Linked DNA regions of Homo sapiens: regions 1, 2, 3 and 5 are each linked to region 4. Evidence: fine-mapped expression QTL. A gene starts in region 4. Each other region holds a variant in brackets. All regions are shown on one strand. Distances are between the middles of the regions. Region 1 overlaps SLC7A8 (solute carrier family 7 member 8). Region 2 overlaps SLC7A8 (solute carrier family 7 member 8). Region 3 overlaps RBM23 (RNA binding motif protein 23). Region 4 holds the start of SLC7A8 (solute carrier family 7 member 8). Region 5 overlaps SLC7A8 (solute carrier family 7 member 8).

The links. PIP is the estimated chance that this variant, and not a neighbour inherited with it, causes the effect.
Region 1: its variant is fine-mapped to the expression of SLC7A8 in whole blood (TOPMed, PIP above 0.99).
Region 2: its variant is fine-mapped to the expression of SLC7A8 in cerebellar hemisphere (GTEx, PIP above 0.99). The same link has a PIP of 0.9 or more in caudate, cerebellum, nucleus accumbens and putamen.
Region 3: its variant is fine-mapped to the expression of SLC7A8 in tibial artery (GTEx, PIP 0.90).
Region 5: its variant is fine-mapped to the expression of SLC7A8 in whole blood (TOPMed, PIP 0.97).

Annotation. Positions count from the first base shown.
Region 1 is chr14:23,152,365-23,156,480 of GRCh38, forward strand. The region is part of intron 3 of SLC7A8 (solute carrier family 7 member 8); the gene reads right to left. It also overlaps the pseudogene RNU6-1138P. Among named protein-coding and RNA genes, the nearest start is that of SLC7A8, 29 kb to the right of the region's middle. The variant G/C (reference allele first, on the strand shown) is at 2,254.
Region 2 is chr14:23,134,835-23,138,950 of GRCh38, forward strand. SLC7A8 (solute carrier family 7 member 8) reads right to left here. Exons shown (of 11, transcript NM_012244.4): 7 at 3,087-3,190. Among named protein-coding and RNA genes, the nearest start is that of CEBPE, 18 kb to the left of the region's middle. RefSeq lists a silencer at 2,766-3,060. The variant T/C (reference allele first, on the strand shown) is at 1,930.
Region 3 is chr14:22,900,129-22,904,234 of GRCh38, forward strand. It overlaps RBM23 (RNA binding motif protein 23), which reads right to left. Exons shown (of 14, transcript NM_001077351.2): 11 at 2,059-2,254; 12 at 1,852-1,971; 13 at 1,686-1,755; 14 at 1-1,605. The coding sequence ends at 1,602. Among named protein-coding and RNA genes, the nearest start is that of RBM23, 17 kb to the right of the region's middle. RefSeq lists enhancers at 1-329, 347-416. The variant T/C (reference allele first, on the strand shown) is at 2,274.
Region 4 is chr14:23,181,890-23,186,005 of GRCh38, forward strand. It overlaps SLC7A8 (solute carrier family 7 member 8), which reads right to left and starts at 1,771. Exons shown (of 11, transcript NM_012244.4): 1 at 875-1,771. The coding sequence starts at 1,025. It also overlaps a transcript of RNF212B not described here.
Region 5 is chr14:23,144,010-23,148,125 of GRCh38, forward strand. The region is part of intron 3 of SLC7A8 (solute carrier family 7 member 8); the gene reads right to left. Among named protein-coding and RNA genes, the nearest start is that of CEBPE, 27 kb to the left of the region's middle. The variant C/T (reference allele first, on the strand shown) is at 2,567.

The DNA.
Region 1 (4,116 bases), 30 kb before region 4:
TAGCAATCTGCCCACTTTGGCCTCTCAAAGTGCTGGGATTACAGGCATGAGCCACCAATGTTTTCTTTTTTTTGAGACAGGGTCTTACTCTGTCATCCAGGCTGGAGTGCAGTGGCATGATGATGGCTCACTGCAGTCTCAACCTCCCCAGACTCAGGTGATCCTCCCACCTCAGCCTCCTGAGTAGCTGAGGTGTGTGCCACCAGGCCCAGCTAATTTTTGTATTTTTTGTAGAGACGGGTTATGCCAGGTTGCCCAGGCTGGTCTCTAGAACTCCTGGGCTCAAGTGAGCCACCTGCCTTGGCCTCCCAAAGTGCTGCGATTACAGGCATGAGCCGCCACACCCGGTGATGTTTTCAGGTGCTCCCTTGCTTTGGATACAGGACTCTGGCTTCTCATTGAGCTGGGCCAGCAGGGGGTCATTTTGTGCCTCCCTCAGGGAGCCAATGAACATTCCCACATGGATCCCTGAACCAATCTCATTTCTTCTACTAAGCCAGCTGCCACTCGATGAGCCACACTATTCTGGTCTGACAGGGTAAAGGTTGGGATAGGGCCACCTGGATACGGGGCTGGATTGGTTGTTATAAGGACAGTGCTAAGAAGAATGAACCAGTTGGGACTCTCCTTGTAGTCAACTCTTGGCCCTAGAGGTAAATATTTGAAGCCTGCGCCCTACCACCCAAGGCTTGTGTCCAGCCTCATGGGTGATCAGAAGGCAGGAATGACCTTAGAGACCCAGAACCTCATTTTATTTTTCTTTTACAGATGGGAGTCTCATTCTGTCGCCCAGGCTGAAGTGCAGTGGCATGATCATAGCTCACTGCAGCTTCCCAGTCCTGGGCTTGAGCGATCTGCCTGACTCGGCTTCCCAAAGTGCTAGGATTACAGTTGTGAGCCACCATGGCGGCCCCAGAACCTCATTTTATATGTGAGTGAATTTAGACCCCAGCTAATTCGCAGCAAAGACCAGACTGGGACAGCCCAATTCCCAGTTGCTTGTTCTGCCTCTGCCCCGCCTTCCTTCATTATACACAGATCACTCTGCTTTCCCTTGGCCGCTCCCACATCATCTCTCCTCCTGCTTGGGTCAGTGGTACCCATGGTCACTACTGCCAGTGCCACTTGGGACTCTGGGTCTGTCACCAAGACACTGGTTAGCCCCAGCCTGGACTGCTTTCTGTGCAGCAGGAAGGAAGATGCCAATATGGCAAAAGGGGAAGACTTTCACAGTTATGCCTCAGAAACCAAGAAAGGTGCATCCATTGCTCCCAGGGCTTTAGAAAGTCATTTCCCACAGGGATCTCCACCTTGGGTCCCCTCCCACCAGCCCCCTTAATCAATGTCACAGTCACATGTTCCCTCCAAACTCCCGGAACTCCATTTGGATTTCTCGGTCTCGCTGGCTTGCACCTTTCTCAGGAGTGGACTGGACTGGCTTGGAAAGGCTTGGTTTTCCTTTAACATTTCCAGAACCAGGCCACTCCTCCTTGTCTGTTCAGATAAGTGAAAACAGGCAGTAGAAAGGGGGAAAAATGTCCAGACTTGCCAAAGTCCATAAAGACAGATGGTGAAGAAGAGAGGGAAAGAGCACAAGAAACCACAGGGCGGGAGAGAGCAAGGGGAGGACAATGCAGATGAGTGGGAGAGAAAAAGGGCTTGAGAGGAGCAGAACAGAGAGAGGCCAGGACTGAAAACAGCAAGATGGAATGTACTAAGCAGACGGTTGCTGAAAAAGGAAGCAGTGACGCCACTTTGTAGAAATCAGAACGCCCTGTTCCTCTCCAAACCTGCAAAACAGGCACCTTTCTGGATGGAGCTCCCCAGCCCTCTGAAACGCCATAAATTTCACCTGGGTCATGGCCTGCCAGAAGGGTTGGCTTCTCAGCCTCACCTTTTGCTGGGGCGTTCACTTCTCTGCCTTCTGCCACGCTCTGGCCAGCTCCCACAGACTCCCTCCCCTCCAGCTGGAGCAAAAGGGGTGAGGCATGTCCCTCCCAGCAGCCCTCTGGGTCTGGGTGCCCAGGCTGGAGGTTGGAGCCGCTGGGCAGGGAAGCCGGGCCTGTGGGGGCGTGGGTGTGGCTACGCTCGGCTCTGTGATTGGCTGCACCGAGTTCCTTGGCCGCCTCCCCCGCTTGTGGAAGGAACTGAGCACGTGTTTCTAATTGTGGAAAAGCCGCTTCGGCTTGGCCTGTCCAACCGCAGGCGTTTCCAGATCTAGGAGGTAAGCAGTGCCGGCTGCCAAAAGGCGCT[G/C]ATAGGCAAAGAAAACACGGAGGCCTGTTTGACCTCTAACGCACACAACCCAAGGCTCTGATAAGGTTCCAGTTCTGCCCACGCAGGCCACACGGAACAGTCTTTCCTCGTCAAAGACCCAGAGAGGCCTGGAGGTGTGGGGGAGTGGGCAGACACGGATCCAGCTTCACAGAACCCTCCTAGAATCCTTCTCTATTCCCCGCCCACCCCCACCTCAAGACATTTTTTAGAGCGGGTGAGGGGCCCACATTATAAAGTCCTTCCGCACCTGGATTATTGTACATGTAACATAACTTGTCTGATAAAGTTATACATATAACTTGACTGGTGAAAGAGAAAAACGTTAAAAAAAAAAAACCCACAAAAAGCCACACAACAGACAAAAAAAAAAAAAAAAAAAAATCAAAGCAGCCCTTCCTCATAAACTGCGCTTTGATCCCAGCTTCTATAAAGTGCACAGTGGGGAGTGTGGTTTTGAAACAGATCTTGCCTATCGCACGATAGTAACATTTCCCCTTCTCCAGCCCTTTTCATCTCGAAGCACTTACAACGTTTTAGAAATCTCGGAACCCCCTCCAAAGGAGAGGAGGTGCTCTGAGCCTTCCGGAAGGGCCTCTCTCTTCCAAGGACACACCAGCAGAGGAGGAGGGTGCAGAGAAGCTGTGAGGGCTGTGAGTGCTCCTGGAGGCACACAGCTTTTACCAAACACTTCCAGCTAAGCTCCTGCCCATACTGCCCCATCCCCTCCCCTCCTCCCTTCCTGGCTCTCTCTTCCCCTTCCTTCTTATCCTGTTAGCTCCTGCGCCAGCTGCTGGAGCTGGGGTTTCTGCTGAATCACCACCCAGTATTTAGCTCAGCCAAGAGGCAGGAATACCCAGCTCAGCATTTTCCAAGAGCTGAGTAGTTCTCTCTTCAGCATGAGCTAAACATGGCTCCTCAGCTGGCCTGGATCGGGGAGAAGCGAAAAACTGGACACCAAGAAATCCAGGGTGGCCTGCCATGCCACCCTGGGGAACCCTATTTTAATCCTACTCATTACTTTTTCAGCCTGGGCCTGAAAAATTGCTATCTCACACACCAATTCTCAGGGCTGATGTCCCCCGAGACATGGAGCAAGGTGGATGAGAATGGGTTCTGTTGAGTCTGCACTGAGCCCAGGAGGGCTAGCCTGACCCTCCATCATATTTCAGTCTTGGAAGACAGGGTGTGGATCCTGTGAGGTTTAGTTGGTTCTTGGACCAGAAGGCTTGTAGGCTCTGTTGGTGTTCACTAAATTCTATAAACCTGGACCCAGGCTGCAAAATTCCCCCAAAACGGTTCAGTTATAACCCAATTCCAAGGGTAGCTTGTACTTAAACTTGCTGAACTCTTTTTTCTTTTCTTTTCTTTTTTTTTTTTGAGATGGAGTTTCGCTCTTGTTGCCCAGGCTGGAGTGCAATGGCACGATCTCGGCTCACCGCAACCTCTGCCTCCCGGGTTCAAGCGATTCTCCTGCCTCAGCCTCCCGAGTAGCTGGGATTACAGGCATATGTCACCACGCCCGGCTAATTTTGTATTTTTAGTAGAGACAGGGTTTCTCCACATTGGCCAGGCTGGTCTTGAACTCCCGACCTCAGGTGATCCGCCCTCCTCGGCCTCCCAAAGTGCTGGGATTACAGGAATGAGCCACTGCGCCCGGATATTTTTCTCTTTTTAATAAGGAACACTTTGTGAATTTGCATGTCATCTGTACATGGGGCCATGCTAATCTTCTCTGTACTGCTCCAATTTTAGTATATGTGCCGCTAAAGTGAGCACAACTTGCTGAACTCTTATAACAGAGATGCCCTTTTTTCTTTCCCCCAAAGCTCCAAGTACCACTGG
Region 2 (4,116 bases), 47 kb before region 4:
GCCCAGTTTCCTCCATTGGTAACATGCTACACAATTATATTATAATATCACAACTAGGATATTGATGTTTAAATCAATTTTATTTTTTACTTATTTTTCTTTGCTAATTTTTTGTAGTGACAAGGTCTTGCCTTGTTGCCCAGGCTGGTCTGGAACTACTGGGCTCAAGCAATCCTTCCACCTTGCCTTCCCAAAGCACCGGGATTACAGGCGTGAGCCACCACGCCCAGCCCTAAAAGTTATTATTTTTTTAATATTTTTTATTTTTATTGAGACAGAGTCTTGCTCTGTTGCCCAGGCTGGAGTGCAGTGTCACGATCTCGGCTCACTGCAACCTCCGCCTCCTGGGTTCAAGTGATTCTTCTGCCTCAGCCTCCTGGGTAGCTGGGAGTACAGGCACCTGCCACCACGCTCAGCTAATTTTTGTATTTTTTTTAGTAGAGGTGGGGTTTCATTATATTGGCTAGGCTGGTCTCAAACTCCTGACCTTGTGATCCGCCCGCCTCAGCCTCCCAAAGTGCTGGGGATTATAGGTGTGAGCCACTGCGCCTGGACATAAAAGTTATTTTTAAAAAGAAAAGTTTTAGGCCAGGTGCGGTGGCTCACGCCTGTAATTCCAGCACTTTGGGAGGCTGAGGCGGGCGGATCACGAGGTCAGGAGATCAAGACCGTCCTGGCTAACATGGTGAAACCCCGTCTCTACTAAAAATACAACAAATTAGCCAGGCGTGGTGGCAGGCGCCTGTAGTCCCAGCTACTCGGGAAGCTGAGGCAGGAGAATGGCGTGAACCCGGGAGGCAGAGTGTGCAGTGAGCCAAGATTGCGCCACTGCACTCCAGCCTGGGCGACAGAGCGAGACTCTGCCTTAAAAAAAAAAGAAAAATTTTAAGAGAATAATTTGAATGTTCCTAGCATAAAGAAAAGACAATATTGAAGGAGATGGGATATCTCAATTACTCTGATTTGATTTTTACACATTATATCAATGTATTGAAACATCATCTGTAGCTTGAAAATATGTACATCTATTATATACATATGAATATGAAACTTGAACATAAAAATCAGCCCTCCTTCCCTTTTACTCTCCTAAGAGAAAAGTGAATATTAGAAGCTGTCAACAGTAATTTACATGTCAGTGCAAATTGGACCACTTTTTTCTTTTTTCTGGGGAAAGGCCCACCTAAGGGATGACAGGCAGGGTACAGCTTGATAGGAACAAAAAGGCACATATTCAGCACACTGGGAGTTCAGAGGAGAATAGTCATTTACTTTGTAATTTGTGTATGGAGTAGACTGAAGCGAACAGCAGCAGCTAATCAGAAGTGTGGGAGCTGACTGTATCCCCAAGTACCCATAAGCAGTAACCATCATGAACTCCCTAGGCCGGTGTCACTAGTTTCATGCAGCCATACACATCCCTGTCCCCTCTCCCATGCTACTGCCCCTCTACAGGGCAGTCTCATGCACCAGGTGCTCTGTGGGGCTCATCGTGCACATAGCCAGGGTCCTGCACTCACGTCCCCCCTCCACATGCAGACAAGACCAAGTGTAATTGTCCAGATCCAACAGCATTTGCAAGTGTCAGGTTCACAAGAGACAGTCCTTGCCCAGCTAGCCGATAACGGAGGAGACGATGACATTAAGCATAACACACATCCACACACTCTGACTCTTCAGGAAGGATCATCCTCTCCCTACCCGAGAACACAAAGGAGTGACAGAGAGATAAAGAAGGAGGGAAGGAGAAGGAAGGAAGAAGGAACTGGAAAGATGAGCAGGGGAGGCCTGGGTGGGTGAGGTCTGGCCTCTGAATCGGAGGTGGAGCACACCATGCGCCACCGTTTCCTGCATGCACACACGACTAGACCACATGCACGCAGACCGCTGCTAGGCCTGCCTGAGGGACAAACCCCACTCTAAAGTGAC[T/C]GTAGCCAGTCACTCTCCTCCAATAGATCTCAGGGAGCCTCACGGGTCACTGTTCCTCCACCGCTTGGCCTCGGCGGGGCCTCCGTGTGGCCACTGCTCCTGTGTAACATGCACACGAGGTTGCTGTGGGTGAGCGTCACAGGGTCCCGGGGTACAGGGGACACCCACACCACCTCTTTCCAGCCCTGGGTCCTAAAAACATTGCACTCCCTTGTTATTTCACAGGAACTCTTCCTGATGTGACGGCTTTGGAAGCAGCTGAACTCACGGACTCATCTTTGGAGCAGGACTGTACTTTCTGAGGGCAGGGGGTGCTTTCTAAGAACCTGGGAGGATCCCTTGAACCACACAAATGGAAGTCATTCAACATCTGCTAGCCTCAACAGCCCCTTCTGAAGACAGCAAAAGAAAGGGCCGGGTCCCTGGATGCATGGAGGCAGGACCTGGGACTCGTGGACCCGCTCGCACTTCTGGCTTCTGAGAGTGCTCTGGGGTGGGGGTCACGGATAAAAGGCTCTTTCTTTGGACAAATGTTTGCTTTCCACTTTTCCCCACCCTCTCACTTCACATTCTCCACCTGAGTCTCATGGGTGGCCTCAAAAAGGCCTCTACAGCCACCTCTCTGTTGAGCAGGGAGGAGCTCTGCATTCTTGGGGCAATCAGGGTGAAGCCATCCCACCTGCAGGCTAGTTCCAGAACATTCATGGGAGGCCAGACCCAGAGGCCCCAGGCACAAGTCTCCCTCTTGGTCCCTTTCCAAATGGGGTTCTTTTCTAGCCAGCAGCAGCCTGTTTACAGGTACAGGACTGCAGCCAAGATACTGCCTTGCTGCCAACCACAGCCACTGACTGGGGGCGGCGTCAGGCAGGCTGGCGGCCTCCTCTGTCTTCTGCTCCTTTTGAAATGAGACAGGCCACTACATGTGAAGCACCTAGGACCCGTATGCCACACACATCGCAGGTGACCACGTGAGCAGCACACACTCCTCAGCATCCACACTGACACACACGCCCTCATGTGAGCAGTCACCCCTCTGCAAGCCCAACATCCAGATGCCCACACAGACCCCTGCTGACAGAGACAAGCCCACCATATACAAATAGCAAAGTGCACAGCAGAGTGGCCCCTGGCCGGGGAAGGGCCCAGGCAGCACTCACCGAGAGGAGGTGAAGAGAGACCCATTAACTCCTCCAAATGTGGACAGGGCAACAGAAATGGGCATGATCCAGGCCATGACTCCTAGGAGCTTCTCTCCAAAAGTCTGGGAGAGGAACCAAGGAGATAAGCAAAGGAGAGGTCACCACTCCCCGACCCCTCAGCTCCCACTTCACTCTGGGAAACCGTTTCTCCTATCTCCACCCTTGCTAATTCTCTCTCGCCAAGCTTCTTAATTGCCCCCACCCTCTCAAGGGTGGACCCCTACACAGGGTGGTTAATGCATGTTTTAGGCTAATTAACTGAAGGAGGTAGTACACACTGGTAATAATAATAATGAACTAACACTTACTAATCTTGTTTTATGGGTGAGGAACTGAGTCACATAGTGATTAAGTAGCTTGCCTAAGATTACACACCCAGCGAGTGGAGGGGCCAGCATTGGAAGCCAGGTGGTGTGATCCAGGCCTTACATACATTATATGATTTCTCCAGCACAGGGAAGGGCACAGGCTTGTCAGGCAGATCTGTCAGGCAGATCCAGGCTCAAATCCTTGCCCTCCAGCTAGGAGCTGTGAGACCTTGAGCAAAGTTTATGATTTTTGAGCCTCTGTCTCCAACTGCAAAATAGGGATTAATCCAGAATCACAGGGTGAGAATTTCTCAATTCATCAAAACAGATGAGTTGGGGGTAAAATAATAGGAATGAGCCCCTCCTTAGTCTGAGAAAGAAAAGGCTGTGAAGCTATAGATGAATCTTCATGTATTTAAGGACTATACAATGCAGGAGACCAGCCTTTTCTATATTCCCTGAGCCAGGTTTACAGCACATTACCAAGGAGAGATTGTTCAGAATAGAAGGCTGTTGGTCATAAGAACAGGCTGCCCCAGGAGATGGGAGGACCTCTTTCTTTACAGTCTTTTGAGATAAGGCCAGTGAAGAGACTGGCAGGCTGGGTGGTGGCCCAGCCTGATGCCAGGTGAGGGAGCAAGGTGCCTCCCAGGTCCTTCTTAGATGTGAAGGATCCCAAC
Region 3 (4,106 bases), 280 kb before region 4:
TGGAAAGCAGGAGTTGAGGGGACTGACAGAGGAACAACAGTAGACATCAGGTCAGGAGAACCCTGCTGTTATACAAGACCCAAACCCCTTTGGATATTGGATTGGGATCGCTACTACAAAGAGGGTCAAAGGCAGGTACAAAGGCCAATAGAGTTAAGAAAGCTCAGCTTAGCTCTGGTACTTAACTCTTCAAGATCACAACCCCCCCCCCTCCCCGCCCCGCCCCACTAGAAAAAAACAAGTGTAGAATGCAGTACTGTCATAGTGCCATCTGCTGGAAAGATCTGTCATTAGGCACAGAGAAGGAGCCTGTTAAGTCTAAGTCTGTCCTGGTGCTGCAACTTGGCTGTTTGGGTAATTCTGTCCAGTGGGTAGCTGGGATGGAGATAGTTAGGATGAAGATAGATGGAGAAGACAACCATAGATCAACAGTGTAATGCAGATACAGAATGGGAACCCCACCCAGGTGTGAGTTTTCATTTTTCTTTCTAAAGGTGGTTAAATAAATAAACACAATGATGTTACTAATGTTTTATATCCCTAGAAACATCATAAGTTGGGCTAATGAGAAGTTGTCAGACACACAACAAAGACCACACACAAATGGGCAACAGCTGCCACAAGGAGGAGGCTTGCCTTTTGTACAAAGTTTTTATGTATATATATATGTATATATATTTATGTACACAGACACAAGGGTATAAAATCCAGTGAGAAGGGCTCACACATGCCCAGGTAAGGGATGGGAGTAGCTATAATTGCCAGGGTTGAGGCCACAGTAGAGGCACACAGGAAGTGGTAGAGTAGCAGCCTCCCTCCATCCTCCTACCTCGGGCCAAAGGGAGGAAATGGGAGGAAGGACAAGTATACAAAGGAAGATGGAAGATACTGGAAAGGCATACTCCACCTTTTACTAAATTCCTGAAAGCCCCTAAATGCCTCACAGGACAGATCACTCTCACACCTCCTGGCAGGACAGATCACTCTGAGGCCTCCTGGCAGGATAGATCACTTCCATGCCTCCTAGCAAGATGCTGAGGCTACAGTAGGTCTGGCCTCAAGCTGCTTCAAGCTAAGGTCTGAGGCTGGCTTCTCAATGCACGTCCATGCTATCTCCCAGGGCCCTTGTAGCAGAAAGAGCACCTTCAAGGTTCACCCACAAACTCAGTCCTCTTGATTCAGAGGTCCTAAGGGTTTTCCTTGACAGACTAAAGGTTAAAGGTACAGGAAAAGGAGAGAGGTCAGTTCCTTCAGTATGCCCTATGGCCTTCCCAATGGGGGAGAAATTGAGGAATCACTAAGGTGTTGGAAAGGGCAAGAAGGTAATCTCAGAGACGATACACATGGAGAAACAGGTATTCAATGCAGGTGTGGATTCTGTTCTCTTCAACTGGTGGCTTTGCTCAGCAGAGTCCATTTCCAGTGGGACCATGGGCAGGAGCTTTTCTTGGTATCTTAAGGGTGGCCCCAATTTCCTCAGAGACAATGTCCATGCCCTCAGGATGGCTTGGTCCACAAAATGGAGAAATGGGGCCATGGAAGAGTAGATGTGAAGTGGCAGGATCCAGAGGCACAAGGAGGCAGTATACTGTGCCACTGATTTACCTGTGGAAAGAAGAGGTAAATGGGAAGCCAAAGGAAAGAGAATAATCAAAGGCTAGAATGAGCTAGACCCTGAGACTCACATGGTCTGGGGGGTAAAGAGGCTGGAGAGCTGGAAACACTGGGAGGCAAGGTTCAGGGCTGGACTCAGAGCTAGAACAAAGACAGGCAGAGTGAGTGAGCAAGCACCGCGCACTCCTTCTTTCCAGACCCCCAAACCTTCCCTTCCTTTCCCATGTCCAAGACTACCAGTCAGAGCTGCTGGATTCAGGGCCCCCAAGGGAACTGCTCCATTCAGTTGCAAGGCAGCAGCCTGGGCGGCGGCGGCAGCAGCAGCAGCAGCAGTGCTTGGCAGTTGGATTCCAGCGCCTAAAAGGAAAAGAAAAGGTGGGATTAAGCCCCAACCCTTCATCTAAAATTCAACCCCATAATCTTCACCTTGCGGAGATATTTTACCTTCTGCCAGTTTTGCCATGAGCTGAAAACGTCCACCTGCTGATCCCAGATCCAGCTCCTGGTCCCCATCAGGAAAAGTGATGTCTGTGCCACCATCCAGTCGCTCAGTCACATGGCCAACCCTCATAGGTCGACCAGCAAGCTCAAACCCATTCAACTGTTCCAGGGCCCGCCGGGCACACTCAGAATCAGAGAACTATGAGAAACCCAGGCCA[T/C]GTTAGTCACCTACTCACCAAAGACATGCTCTCAAAGACCCAGTAACACTCCCTAGTCCTACTATCCCAGGAAAATTGTATGCTCACTGAGGTACAAACTTTTCTTTCCCAGAAAATATGACCTAGGCCCATCACCTCAAAATGGTTCTCTGAAAAGGACCTTTTCCAATGGACTCAATGGCAGTCACTTTTCAATCTTTCAGCTCCATTAAGAATCTAACAATGCAAAATTTTATTATTGTAGGAAACCTAGCCTGACAAGTTATTTCACAAATGGGTATATCAAATGGAAGACAAGCTAAGAACAAGGCTCCTGGGCTTTTAATTCAGTTCTCTATCCTAGTAAGTTTTAGTCTTTTTTTTTTTTTTTTTTTTTTTTTTTTGAGACGGAGTCCCACTCTGTCACTCTGTCACTGAGGCTAGAGTGCAGTGGCACCATGTCAGCTCACTACAACCTCCATCTCCTGGGTTCAAGCAATTCTCCTGCCTCAGCCTCCCGAGTAGCTGGAATTACAGGCACCCACCACCATGCCCAGCTAGTTTTTTTATTTTTATTTTTTAGTAGAGATGGGGTTTCACCACGTTGGTCAGGCTGGTCTCGAACTCCTGACCTCAGGCGATTCACCCACCTTGGCCTCCCAAACTGCTGGGATTACAGGTGTGAGCCACCGCGCCTGGCCAAATTTTAGTTAAGTACTAGGAATCTGGAACTCCTAATTCCAGGCTTAAGAGGGAACACACCCTAGTGCTGACAGCAAGGCAGAACCCACACCCCCACATACACACAAGAGCTGTTGACTAAGTGACCTGCTGACCAGAAGGCCTTTACTCTCTAGTCCCTTTTATCAGCAGCACCCAGCAACACACTGGTACAAAGAGGATTCCCAGTCTGCTGTTTGTTTAAGTGTCAAGGTTGTTGACCCAAAAGGCAACAATGCAAGGGCAAAAATGCCCCACAGAAGCCTTTCCATATCTCAGTCACACAGAGAGCGAGAAAAGGTTACAAAAGTTACTTGCCACCACAGAATTGTCAACACCACAGCTAGCTTGTTTAGCTAGCTAGCAGCATTACCTGCCTTAGGGCCTGGCATGTGGTACTGACAGTTCCTAGGCAGGTGTTATACATGGCTTGCCTTTACTGGATATTTTTGAGGTGAGCAATTCCAATGACAGAATACAACCTACTGCCCTCTGCCCTGTGGGTCACTGTGGGAGTGTATGCTGCCTGGTTTAAGCCCAGAAAATACAAGCTTCTATCAGACTTTGTGGCTGGCAGCCAGTTCTCAGCCTGGAGTCACATGGGGCTGGAAGAACCAGTTATAGGAATTGGCAACCATTTTGTTGGAATGTCAGGAAAAGGTGAAGCTTGCCCATAATTAGGTGGCCTCACTATTCTCCCCATAGTGCTACGTTAATAACTGATCCTTCTCGGTGCAGAAATTGCTTCAAATGGGGTAGCACCAGAGGGAAGTATAATTTCCTATTCCCATCCCTGTTATGAGAAACATCAATTCTATAAAGCATGTCTTTAAAAGCCCATACCTAACCTCCCTCACACCCCCAACCTTTTAGCTGCAGCCTGGTTACTATTACCCAAAGAGCCAAGTTGCAGCACCAGGGAAGCTGGGTGAACTCCTGAACACCCCCATACCAGGGCCACTGACAGAGTGTAGGAGCAAAGCCAAGATCTCAAGCAATGCACTCATCTCAAGGGGTAGAAGGCTAGTCCAAGCTTCAGGCACCAGGGTTTATGGGTCATTTAGACAGTTCCTAAAGGAGGAGGATGAAGCTAAGCTGCAAAATCAGACAAGTGGACAAACCCAAAGTAAAATA
Region 4 (4,116 bases):
TTTGGGACTCCTGCCCTGCAAAGTACATTCAGGGGGTTTGAGTGGCCTGCACTGGCACTCTTGGGGCCACCCAGGTTCCCCACCTTCAGCACCTCCCAGCTAGGACACATATTTTACCCATCAGTTCCTCCTCAACTCCATATTCTACACATTCTAGTTACTCCTGATTCCCTCTGAGAGCTTCACCGGGTCCTCCGTGGCTGTTAAGAAACAGGTGGACCCCACCAGGCAACTGGAGAAACTGCAAACTCTCCACTTACCGAGAGGCACAATCTGTCCCCTCTTTTCTTCCATAACTTCCCCATCTGTGAAATGGGAATAACAGCCCTGTCACAGCTACTTCACACAGTAAAAGTGCTGCATAAGGTGGAAAACGCTAAAATAAAAAGGCAGGGCATTGCTCTTGCTATTTTTAATACCTATCCCATAGTTTCATTTAACATAAAACTGCAAAATAGCTACCAAATATACCTTAAAAGCCCATCCCCAGCCTGGGAATAATAGCTGCATACAAACTTGTTCAGGTCCCTCAGTCCCTCCTTAAACCTATTGAACTAGAACCTCCAAGTGTCGAGACCAGGACCTGTATTTTTAAGGAGTTCCCAGGCAATGCTAATCATCAGCCGGGTTTCTGACCACGATTTGCTCCATTCTATGAACACTGGGCAGAATCTTTGCCTGGTTTGGAGGAAGAGATGTATGATGTATTTCCTATGCCTCTCAAACTTGACCAGTGGAGGTGAGTTACAGCTCAGGTGACTGACAATCCTTTTCTAAGGAATAGGAAGAACAATAATGCTTTCGAAGGGTTAAGATCTCACAGGAGGACCACCAGAGGGGAGAGGAGGGGTCCGCGGGAAGGAATGGAACTCACCTACGATGATACCACAGGCACTGACCAATCCGATCTCTTTCTTCAGGGCTACTCCGCCCCCTCCGGAACCAGCCTCGGGGCTGGCGTCCGACTCGCCCCCACCTGGGTGTTTCTTTTCGGTGTTGTTTCGGTGCCTGGCTCCTTCTTCCATCCTTCTCAGTAGGATTGCAACCTCAAAAGCTGCCTCCCTTTCTAAATGCGTATTCGTGTAAATATATTGGGAGAGAGCTTTGAATTAGAACGTCCTTTTCCGAAATAGGAACCACTGCTACTCTCTAAAAAAGGCAAGCAGATAAAAGAGAACACGAAAAATATTCCTACTCCGCATTCACACTTTCTGGTCACTCGCGTTTACAAACAAGAAAAGTGTTGCTAAAAAAAAAAAAAAAAAAAAAGGCCAGGGGAGACATACATTTAAATATAAAAATAGAACTGTGCCAGCGACTCCGGCTGGAATTCTGCTGAAAGGGATGTGTCTTCAGAAACCAGGATGGTTCTGCTCTGTGCACCAGGCAGTGGCTTATTCAGAAAGTGAGCCTGGATTTCCCTTCACCTCTCCCCCTAATAAAACAGGAGACTGCCTTTACCTCCCCTTAGTTTTTTCTTTTATGATGAAGACAAAAGTAGTTTTCATTAACGGTAGGAAAAAAGAGCAATCCTCAGGTACTTTCTTCTCTTCTAGAAAAACAAACTGTGAACCTGACGGTGTTGCTCTAGATCTGGTTTCCACCTGCTTTGGGTTTCTTTTCCCTTCCCCGTCTTCTGCTTCCGCCTTTCCCAGGTGTCCTCTTCTTTCTCGCTGGTCTTCGTGCCCTTGTTTTCCTCTTTTCGATCCCCGTTCTACTGCACAGCCGGCCCCATCCCTCTGGTTTCGGGAGAGTGGCTTCTCCACACACTAACGTGCTTCTCTTTAGCGAGGGGTTTTATTCGCCCGCCGAGGCTCCGCCCCTGCCTCCTCTGCTCCCCTCCATCCTCAGTCCCGTCTCCTCCCTCCTCTGCAATTTAAGTATTAGCACAAAGCCCCCAAACAGCACTGAGAAAATGGACTAAGTTATTTCTTTTTGCAATCGTCTCTCGCTTTCTCCATCTTTCTCCTTGCAACCAAGTGGAAGTAAACTCCTTCCACGTCAACTGTTCCGGGAGAGCTCATTAGCTAGTATAATGTTACAGGTCATACAGCATCTGTGAGCTTTATAAATCAGGGAACAGTTGTGCCGATACTTTTAATGCCATCAGAAATAAACTAGCCAATGTATTAAAAAATATTTAGGACTGGATCCTGTATTTGAGAATACAGGAGAGAACGTTGAAAGGACATCATCTTCGAGTTTCCTAAAAATAGGGGGAATCGACGGGTGGGGGAGGGAAATGGAAGGAATTAACAATGGGAAAAAGGTTCTTTTAGCGTAATTGTGAGCTACGAAGAGTACAGAGGAAACAAAATCGCCAGGCGCGGTGGCTCACGCCTGTAATCCCAGCGCTTTGGGAGGCTGACAGGGGAGGATCACGTGAGCCCAGGAGTCTGAGACCAGCCTGTGCAACAGAGCGAGACCCCGTCTACTAAAAATTTTAAAATTAGCCGGGTGCAGTGGTGCAGGCCTGTAGTCTTAGCTACTCAGGAGGCTGAGGCTGGAGGATTGCTTGAGCTCAGGAGGTCAAGGCTGCAGTGAGCTATGATGACGCCACTGCACTCCAGCCTGGGAGGTAGAGCAAGACCCTGTCTCAAAAACAAAACAAAACAAAAAGCCAGAAAAACCACATGCACATACAAAAAGATAAAAAACAAAATCACCAGGTAGCCTTGTTGTTCACAGCTCTTATTTAGGACTGGCTGAAACATGAAAAAAAATGACTCAAACCCTGATCCTGCAACTTCTAATATTTTTGCATTTATAAACTATTTGAAAAGCACACATGGGGAATTATCAGTATATCGCTGATCATGAAACATACTTGTTGATGTTAGAATAACTAGCTTATTACCATATCGAAATGATGCCTCCACTTTCTTGAAGAATTTCACTCAGAAACTGCTGCCTTAAGGTGAGAGCAACAATGTCTATTTATAATTGTAAATTATTTCGAAAAAACAGCATGAAGCAATATAGTGGACAACACTATAAGTCTAAAATAAAGTTATTTTTAGCCTTATTAAATATATTATGCAAAATTATTTAATTTTAAAGTGGGCCTAAAAAATTAAGTTCCCCCAAACTGACCCCTAACTACAAAAATTTGGCCTCACTTTCTGGAAAATGTTCCAAAAGATTTTGGGTTTTAAGGAAAATAAATACTTAATTCCTTAAAATGAGGTTTGTTGAGCTATCATAGCAAAAGCTTTTTCAAATGGGGTAAAGTCCAATCAGCAGTCATCTGCCCCCTTGATCACTCAGCAAGTATTAAGAGGTTTCAAAGGTTGGGAGGAACTTCCTCTCCTCCTTTTGCTAGTTCAAGACACAGCAAATTGAAAGACTCAGCAAAAAAAAAACAACAAACAACAACAAAAAAAACCAGACAAGGCAGGGAATATATAGCACGAAACTCCATGGGAGGGAATGAGTCATGGGAAATGAAAAAATGTCGAATTTGCCTCTAGCCTTTCCTGACAACCTTAGAAAGCACTGAGGAAAAATTTGATAGATTCATTTGTATACATTCAGATTTGAAGACTTCTGCTCCGATTTCAACATCACCATATAAAACAAATAATGTTTCTGCTTCTTAAACGTGAGTTCTTTCAGTAATATTTGGTAGTTCTAATTTATATGATGCAGACTTAATGTGGGATAAAACATGAATGTGATGAATTTGAGGTCTCTTGCTAAAACCAGTGCAAACTGATAACGATATGGTAAGCTTTAGCCCTCTCAAATTATGAACTAAGAAGCTAAGGGGGTTATGGGATCAAATACGTTCTTGGAATACAGCGGTACTAGGTGCACACGTTGGAAAGGAAGAGTTGCTGAAGATTAGTATTTCTATTTCTTTAGCACTTGGAATTTATAAGTGGCTTATTACCATTGATTACTGGTGCGATGTAATATCTAGGAAAGGGGCTGGGCACGGTGGCTCATGCCTGTAATTCCAGCACTTTGGGAGGCCGAAGCAGGTGGAGTGCTTGAACTCAGGAGTTCAAGACCAGACTGGGCAATGTGGTGAAACCCCATCTCTACAAAAAATACAAAAATTAGCTGGGTGTGGTGGCTCACGCCTGTAATCCCAGCTACTCAGGAGGCTGAGGT
Region 5 (4,116 bases), 38 kb before region 4:
ATTCTATGATATAAAGGTATCTGTTTGTTTTTCCATAGACATTTGGGTTGCTCACAGTGTGGGACTATTATGAATAGAGTTGTGATAAATACTTGTGTAGATGTCTTTTTTCTTTTTGTGGATTGTAGAGATCTTTGAGTGGGGTTTTCATTGCTCTTGAGTAAATCCCCAGGAATGAGATCCTGGGCCATAGAGTAAATGTGTTTAACTTTCTAAGAAACTGCCAAACTGTCTTCCACAGTGGCTGTCTCATTTTGCATTCCTACTCTCATGTCAGAGTTCCTGTTGCTCTGTATCTTTCCCAGCATTTGGTATTGTCAGTTTAAACACAATTTTTTTTTTTTTTTTTTTTTTGGCTAATAGGCATGTAGTTGTATTTCATTATGGTTTTGATTTGCATTTCCCTAATGGCTAATGATGTTGAGCAACTCTTCATGTGCTTATTTACCATCCATTTACAAATCTTCTTTGGTGGCATGGGGAGTTGTAATTCTCTACAAAAAATTTTAAAAATAAGCTGGGTGGTGTGGTCGCTCTGACTTCACTTGAATGGCTGATCAAGTTTTATCAGTACCGTATTCTTATATGGTACTTCTACTTTCCAAGTATTTCCCAACCTTATTTGATGCTGAGAACATTTGGTTAGGGTAGGATGGTCCTGACATTAACCGTCTGTAACCTTCCTTTGTGCGCCATCTCCACCTGGCAAACCCCTTCTCCTCTTTCAAGATCCAGCTTAAATGTCACCTGTTCTGTGAATCTCTATAATTCAGCATGTTATTTATTCCTAACAACATGCCTGCAAGGGAAGATATATCAGCTGTGTTTTGTAGACGAGGAACAAAGTTTGTTCCTTCTCTCTAGAACAATCCCAGACCACTTTGTTTATATCTAATGTTGGGATGTATTTCTTTTTTCTTTTTCTTTTTTTTTTTTTTTCTGAGACGGAGTCTCACTCTGTCGCTCAGGCTGGAGTGCAGTGGCGCGATCTCGGCTCACTGCAAGCTCTGCCTCCTGGGTTCACGCCATTCTCCTGCCTCAGCTGGGACTACAGGCGCCCGCCACCACACCCAGCTAATTTTTTGTATTTTTAGTAAAGACAGGGTTTCACCGTGTTAGCCAGAATGGTCTCGATCTCCTGATCTCATGATCCTCAGCCTCCCAAAGTGCTGGGATTACAGGCAGGAGCCACCGCCCGGCCGGGATGCATTTCTTTGTATTAAAATGACCTGCTTCTGGCCGGGCATGGTGGCTCACGCTTGTAATCCCAGCACTTTGGGAGGTCAAGGTGGGCAGATCATGAGGTCAGGAGTTCGAGACCAGTCTGGCTAACACAGTGAAACCCGTCTCTACCAAAAATACAAAAATTAGCTGGGCGTGGTGGTGGCGCGCCTGTAATCCCAGCTACTCAGGAGGCTGAGGCAGGAAAATCACTTGTACCCGGGAGGCGGAGGTTGCAGTGAGCCGAGATTGTGCCAGTGTTCTCCAGCGTGGGTGACAGAGCTAGACCACATCTCAAAAAAAAAAGAAAAAAAAATTTTTTTTTTTTTAAGACACCAAGGGCAAGTAAATGTTTTCATGTTTTTAAATCTCAGGACTTATCATTGGCGCCTGCAAATAGTAGATGCTCAGCAAGTATTTAATAAATGAATTTTAAAATATCACAATTCATTAGCCTTCCAATATCATCTCAGTCTACACATTCCACAGCGCACATCAACCTCTTCTGCTCCCCAGGAACCCCATCAAAAGGAGACACAATCCCTAGTTGGCTTCATGTTGCCAAAGGGCAACAGGGAACTTGACTTCAAGAGCAGAAGCTCCTGACTCCTCATGGAAGAGCTATTATCCAAGATGATGTCATGCAAGGAGAAGCAAAACATGTTGTCAGAGGAAGGATTTTAAGTGCCCGAGCAGGGAGAACACTTTGTAAATACTCAAATGTTCCAGACGGACTGACATCCTGATAAATACACATTTGGTTTGTCTTACTCAATTCAATAAGGATTTCAGGATCATGTGCCTGGTGACAAGCCAACCTAAGTCACTCTAAACAACTGGGTCTGTGATCTCAGCTTCTTCCCTAGGCCCCAAGGCATGCAAGGTACAAGGCTGCGCCCCTTCACCCAGGAATTCAGGCAGACACAGCAGTAACTCAAGGATAAAGGAGATTGATAAAAGGAAGGAAGGAAGATTAGGAAACAAACCCCATAAGCCTCAGGGATAGGTAAGGATTACACAACAAGGAACTGGATCTTGATCTCAGGGAAGAAAATCCTTCTCCAAGGGGAGGAGAGGGGAGGGCGAGGAAATGACAGAAAGTGCTTGAGGAAAATAAGGGCAGAGCAGGACAACTCAAAGAAATTCCTCCTCCCCCAAGCAGACCACCTCCCTGTGTGCTGGGAAAGAAAACATGAAATCATCTCTTTACAAGATGGACCTTACTGAGTCACAGAAAGACACCTTCAAACTATCAGCTCTGTGGTCTTCCTGGGGTAACAGAGATAGGGATGCTTTGTAAAATAACCTATCTGTGGCTATCTTCTGTCTTGCCTAACCTTATCTC[C/T]ATCACTTCCCAAGAACTCAGCCCTTGACTAATATTTAACCTTTCACCTTCACAGTAATCTTTCAGAAACAAGAAGAAATTCTGAGAATGAGGTGGGGATAGGCAGGCTGCCTGTGACACCTAATCTCCTTGGAACAATGGCTGCAGGCCCCAGATCTGGCCCTTCACCCTGCAGTTGGGTGATCATACCATGTGACTGAGGGGAAAGAGGGTATCAGTCTCCTGGTACCACAAGACAGCTTCCCTCACAGCAGGCTGAAACCTGAGCCTCCACCCAGAGAGGAAAGGTCAGTGGGTGCTCGCCAAGCTCCTGCCCCGGTCAGGAGCCCTGCTGCTGGCTAGCTACTGCTTGGCACTTGTCTGTTGCGGACGATGATATTCTAGAACCCTCTCTTCTCGGCTAGACCCTGAATTCCGCATTCCTGAGACACAGTGACCTCAGGGAAGCCACATGTAGATGAGGATCATTGGCCATAGCAGCTTTGAAATGTGAGGGGCTTTTTATCCATCCATCCATCCATCCATCCATCATAGATCCATTCACCCATCCACCCATCTAGCCATCATCCATGCATCCATCCACCCACCCATCTATCCATCTATCATCCATCCATCCACCCACCCATCCAACCATCCATCATCTATCCATCCATCCATCTGTCTATCCATCCACCCATCTACTCATCCGTCATTCATGCAGGGCCTACATGTACTAGGCATTCTAGCTGGTGGGGAGGTTATTGATAAGACACAAGTCCCTGCCTTTAGGAAGTTGGCAGTATAACAGGGACGACGGGTGAAGTAAGAGATGCCCACAAAACAACGAGGTGATGGCAAAGCTATTCACGGAAGCTAGTGGGCATCTATGAGGAACCACTAACTCAGCCCAGGGGAATCAGAGATGCCTTCTATAGGAGGAGGAGACCCTGGCAACATGGAGAAATTTATAATCCTGGTCCAACTGGACAAAATAAAAAGTCATAAGACTGGTTCTTGTCCGTTGTAACCTAGTTGCGGGAGTGGTTACTGCTTCTTTAGAGGCCCTCATGGAATTCCAGGCTTGTATGTATTTTTTGGGCATTTCCTCCCCTCTTTCTTTCTTGCTTCCTGGGTAAAAAATAAGATGAAAGACTATTAAGAAGACAAGAGTTCAAGAAGATGCTGAAGTCAGGGGCTGGTTACTTAATCCACCCAGTTTGAAGAACTCAACATCAAGGTGACAGAAGAGATACAAATAATGAGTCAGGCAGGAGGAGGAAAACTCAGATTCTAGCAACCTGGAACACTGCCCAGAGTCCAGGGCCTCCCAGCTGCCAAGCAGGAGAGATGGGCTCAATGCTTTCTGCAGGACTGGCAGAGGGATTCAGAGTCCTCGCTGCAGACCTGCAACTGGCTTGCTCACTGTGGAGGGCTGGGTTCCCTACAGAGAAGGTGCCCTCAGCCCCATCCCAGCTCTGATCCCAGACTTTGATCTCCAGGAATTACAGAAGTCTCTCCTTCACTTCCTCCCCTTGGCAATGACAGCATATCTCTTTGGGATGGGGGGCAGT